Linked DNA regions of Homo sapiens: region 1 is linked to region 2. Evidence: fine-mapped expression QTL. Tissue or cell type: non-classical monocytes. Region 2 holds a variant in brackets; the other region holds the start of a gene. All regions are shown on one strand. Distances are between the middles of the regions.

Region 1 (2,500 bases), 300 kb before region 2:
CCCAGACCAGCCCGTGAGGGCAAGGCCAGGAAGGGATACAGGGTTCTAGAGAACCAGGGCCTCACCGCCAGCTCCGGCCGCTAAGCAAACATTCCCTCCAGGAGTCCGAGAAGCCGGTGTGCGAGGGGAGGAACCAGCCTGAGGTTTATCGCTCCAGCAACTCCGGGTGATTCATAGAGTTTAGACTCCCGGTTGTCGTAGACCGCGGCAGGCACGCAAACAAGCAGCCCGGGAGATACCCTCCCCTTTCCCAGCCCCCGCTCCTCCACCTTGCTACCCCCTAGCCCGTGACCAGCTGCCTCCCCTCCCCCTCGCGGGCGCTCAGGGTTGAGCAAACACTCCGGGCCGCCCGCCCCGCCACCAGCTGGCTCCGACCGGCGCACCGCTGGCGATCCCCCAGGCAATTCGGCGTCATGAGAACCGGCACCCCGAGACTCGGCGCCCTGCCCTCCCTCCGCGTCTCCAGGGCCCTGGCCAGGCCCAACAACCTCTCCCTCCTCTGTGCGCCTCAGCCCCTACGGGCCTCTGGCGCGGGCTAACTAGGCCTCGCTGCGGGCCCCCAGGACTGCGCACCCCACCCCCCGCGAGGCCAGCAGCCCCGGGGGAAGGCGGCCGGAAAATCTCTTGTTTATCGGGCTGGATAAGTACCAGCCTGGATTCGCTTCCCAATTTCTGCGGTCCAGCTTCAGCAGATTCCTGGGGCCGGAGGGGAAAGGGTGGCAACCCACAGATCCACCCCGGAACAGGGAGTGGGGGGTGGGGCTGGTGGGAACCTGACCTCCTGGAAAGGACGGACTCGGAGTCAGAGCCAACGTGTCCCGGAGCGCAGAGGCCCAGGGGGTCGCGCTAAACACTGTACCTCGGGGAACAAAACCGTGAAGGCTAATTAGGACAAGTCGGAGCAGGGAACGGGGACGCCGGGAGGGGAGAGCGCGCTCCGAGTTGGGCAGAACCTGGAACGGTCACAGGAAACCCGGGCGCGGGGTAGTCGGGCCGAGGGGGACCTTTGCCCACGGTCCAGAGTGGTCTGGACTCGGCCCACGCGTGAGAGGAGCGCTTGGTGACGATCCCACGTACGCTTGGTGACTGGTGGAGGTCCCAGAGAAGGACCGTGCGTGCAAAAGGCGAACCTCGGTGTGCGGTGTGTCCACGTGTGCAAGCTGGGGAGGGGAGGGGGCGCAGAAGGCGTGACAAAGACGGACTCTGTCTTGAGTGTGCGCCTCGCTCCGGCCCGCTCCCAGCGAACTGTGCCTGAAGTGTGTCTCACGGGAGGGCCAGGACGAAGGTGACAAAGGCTAGGTGTCCCCCACGGAGACGCGCCAAGGTAGCCCCGCGCGTGTCCGTAGGCGCGCTCTCTGGAAGACGCGGTGGGGGGTGCGCAGGGCTGCACCCTCACACCAATTGCCCCGGCGAAGGCCGAGCCCAGAAAGTGAGTGCGCGTGAGTGTGCGCGCGCCCGCATGCGGGGGCGTGGCAGTCAACAGCAACAACCCACACGCCGGCAGGGCCAGAAACTCCCATCTCCCTCACCAGCCGGAAAGTACGAGTCGGCTCAGCCTGGAGGTGAGTCGGGGCGGGGAGGGCCGGGCAGGCTTTGTTCCTGTGTAAACGGAGCGCACGTACCTGGAGCGCGGCGGGCGCCCGATTAGCGCCCTGAATGGAGGTGATGTAACGGTGATGCAGGCTCCAGCCCACCCTCGCCGAAAGCAAGGAGCCCTGCCTGGGGACAGGCCCGCGCGAGAGCGAGCAACCCAGCGCGCCTGGCTCAGCCTCGGTCCCAGGGAGAGGCAGGCCCTGCGTCCCGGCCCGGGCCCCGCCATCCCAGCCAGGACCGGGCCTGGCCCAGCGCCCCGCGCCGCGTCCCTCCCACCCCCGCCCGCCCCCCGCCTGGGGCTGGAGTTGGCCCCAAACGCTGCGCTGGAGCGGGGCCGGCGGCGAGTCCCAGGTAAGGGCTGCTGCCTTCCCGCTCCGCCGCCCGGAAGAGTCGGGTCGGGACGGCGGGGAGTGGGCGAGGGCAGAGGCGGGGGGACTGGACATCCTGCGGGCTGGGGACGCCGCGCCAACTCCGCTCGGTCGCTGAAAGTTTTCAAACCCGAGCCGGCTGGGGACTGGGGGGGTGGGGGAGCCCGGCGCTGCGGCTCGGGCTGGAGGGAGGGGAAACCACTCCATAATCGGGGTCTCCAAGAGGAGCCCCTCCACCGCCTGCCTCTCGGTGGGAGTCCGCGGTCACTCTCTCTCGTGGGTGGCGTCCTCTCTGCCGCCTGCTACTGTGGATGTGGAGGGCAGGTTTCTGTGGCCCTAAAAATGGGAGAGAGTGACTGGTTCCCTTGCTCCCCATTCCAGCCACCCAGGGAGCGCAGGTGTAGACCCCAGTACCGTCGACCCAAGTAGGGACGAGAGGGTTCAGAATCCCCCTGAGGGAAGTTTGGAAATTCAGACTATCAAAGCGCCTCCCCTTCTGGTAGCCTGGCCCCTAGATCCCGAACCCCCACTCCCGGCTG
Region 2 (2,752 bases):
CAGGCCCAGGTTACAGTTCCGTGTTTAGTCCTCGGTAAAATGGTAAAAGGGCAGCTCGGGTTAAGGAAGCCCAGTGCCCTCGGCTTTTTCTGCCCGCAGCCCCTCTGCGAGACAAGGGATCCCTCCTTTACCACACATCCCATCTCCCCGCGTTGTCCCGTGCCTGCGGCTGCAGCTGCCCTTGAATTCCTGGGAAGACCTTGGGAGAGGGTTCCACTCCTCTCTCGGGCTGTGGCAGGAAGAGCAGGGCCTTCCCTTGGGACTCCAGAATCCTAGCATCTCAAGATGGGGAAGAGCAAACATCTCTTCTTGGACAACGCGGATGTTTGGGAACCTCTGAGACCAGAGCACAGGGCCTGTGAGATCACGCTCAGGGTCAGGACGCAGCAGTGCCACACTGATGGGAAGAGAGAGAGGAAAACTCAGAAAAATGGGCTTGCCCACTGGGTCACAGCCAGGAAGGCAGGGGTTCAGAATGAACATGGCTTCTGCATGACCTTCCAGGAGGCAAAGCGGAAGTGAGTGCCTGGTTCGGGTGTGTTCTGGGGCCTAGAATCGGCCCTGAAACACCAGTTCCCAGGGCTCTCCCCAGACTGGGACCGGCTGGGCTCTGGTAGTGCTGAATAGGGAAGGGCTGAGACCCAGGAGGCCAAGGCTACCTGGCAATCCCTGAGGTCTGGGACCAGGCTGCCATGAAGCAAACCAGGATGACCTGGTGCCAGGCGTCACCCACCCCAGCCCAGGCCCAGTCTGCTCTCAGCAGCCAGGGCACACCCTGCCCTCAGGGTCACACCCGCATCTCCTCACCCACCCTTCTGCCTGTCTGGTGAGGAAGGAAGAGAGTGGGGTGGATGTGGCTGTGGACATGCAAAGTCTGACTCACGTTCCACAGACCACAGAGGTGAGATCTCCAAATTTTGCCGCTAGCTTGGCAAGAAAATTGAGGCCGATTTCCTGTGAAGGAAAAAGAAAGTGTGTGGTCAAACTGTTTGTCTAGCCTGAGATGAGACACACTGGGCTTTCCCACTGACCTCAGGGTGGGCCTCCTAGAGCCTGGGCTGCCTGCTTGGTACCAGCCAGCACCCGATGTTCTGGTGCATCTCAGGACAAACCTGTTGCCTGCTTACGCTGAGTGAGGACCTGAGCCCCTGGCCAGAAACTCAGCCTGGGGACACCTGAGCAAAGAACTGGTGGACATCGGGGTCTCCTCCAGATATCAGCGGTCTGGGGGTCCCCGGAGAGCCAGGCTACAAGACACTTGTTTACCCATCTGTCCTTCTCACGGAGATTTGAGATATGGCATGGATAAGGGCCCTGCCGCTGGCCAGGCTGTAGCCTGCAACTCCTGCATGATGGGAAGGGAGGCAGGTGCTGCCAC[A/G]GGCTCCGCTCAGGAGGCTGAGTGCCGCCCAGGTGGCAGGGGAGGGACAGAGCCCCTGGTCTCCCACTTTGGAGGAGCCAGAGGTGAGCAGGGTGACTACCTCGGGCATGCCTTCACCCATAAACTACCAGGCCCATCGCCTTCTGGAAGTGGGACCTGCCCAGGTCCTGTGTAGATGCCTCTCAGTCAAGACCTTCCCTAAATTCTCCACTACCAGCCCCATCAAACTGGCTGTGGGGGTCGTGCTGATGGGGTTATGGCACACTGATGTCGATGGGGTTCACACAGGGGTCTTTCCAGTCCACCACAGTTCAGGTCCTCCTTGTTACCTCTCTCCTCAGTTTCCCCCAAATTCCCTAGTCTTGCCTAAACACTGATGCAAAATTCCTCTTTCAAAACCTTCACTCAGGCCAGGCGTGGTGGCTCACACCTGTAATCCCAGCACTTTGGGAGGCCGAGGCGGGCGGATCACTTGAGGCCAGGAGTTCAAGACCAGCCTGGCCAACATGGCAAAACCCCTTCTCTACTAAAAATACAAAAACGTTTGCCAGGCGTGGTGGCACACGCCTGTAATCCCAGCTACTTGGGAGGCTGAGGCAAGAGAATCACTTGAACCTGGGAGGCGGAGGTTGCGGCGAGCCAATATCATGCCATTGCGCTACAGCCTGGGCAACAGAGTGAGACTCCATCTCAAAACAACAACAACAAAAAAAAAAAAACACCTCACTCTGCTCATCCCCCACCTGAACATTCACGGTTCACTATTACCTTCCAAATAAAGTCTGAATCTCTCATCTGTTGGTCAAGCTGTTGCACAGTTTAGACCAGTGGTTTTCGAACACTCCTTCAGCGCACATAAAAGCCTCCAGGGGGAAGCTCATCTGAAATGCAAATTCTAAGCTCCCTCATACACATGCTGCTTCAGTAAAACCACGTGGGGGGCCCAGAATCTGGGGGTTCTGACCCAGGGGGTCCATGCGCCACATTTTGCAAAACATGAGTTGAGGCCTTGTCCCTCCAGTCTCTGCCCGGGTCTCCTTCCCACATCCCGACCCTGTGCTCTTTGGGCTGTGCTGTTCCCCAGCTCTGAAGTTTTCTGCCATCGACCTGGATAGCAGGGAGTCCCCTGCCCCCATCTCTGCAGGTGTGATTTGAGGTGTGTGTGGTGAGGTGATTTGAGGGGTGTGGCAGGTGTGTGGTGTGATTTGAGGTGCGTGGTGAGGTGTGTGGTGTGATTTGAGGGGTTAGGTGTGTGTGGTGTGAGTGTGTGTGTATGGTGAGGTGTGTGTGTCTGGGGTGTGATTTGAAGTGTGTGTGGTGTGAGGTGTATGTGGTGTGATTTGATGTGTGTGTATGTGGCGTGAGATGTGTATG

Evidence for each region. PIP is the estimated chance that this variant, and not a neighbour inherited with it, causes the effect.
Region 1: GPRC5C starts here. The variant in region 2 is fine-mapped to the expression of GPRC5C in non-classical monocytes (Schmiedel 2018, PIP 0.92).

Annotation. Positions count from the first base shown.
Region 1 is chr17:74,430,580-74,433,079 of GRCh38, forward strand. GPRC5C (G protein-coupled receptor class C group 5 member C) reads left to right here and starts at 1,509. Exons shown (of 4, transcript NM_022036.4): 1 at 1,509-1,562. RefSeq lists a silencer at 382-521.
Region 2 is chr17:74,729,940-74,732,691 of GRCh38, forward strand. LOC124904057 (a long non-coding RNA gene) reads right to left here. Exons shown (of 3, transcript XR_007065905.1): 2 at 812-954; 3 at 1-397. It also overlaps a transcript of RAB37 not described here. Among named protein-coding and RNA genes, the nearest start is that of RAB37, 5.9 kb to the right of the region's middle. The variant A/G (reference allele first, on the strand shown) is at 1,379.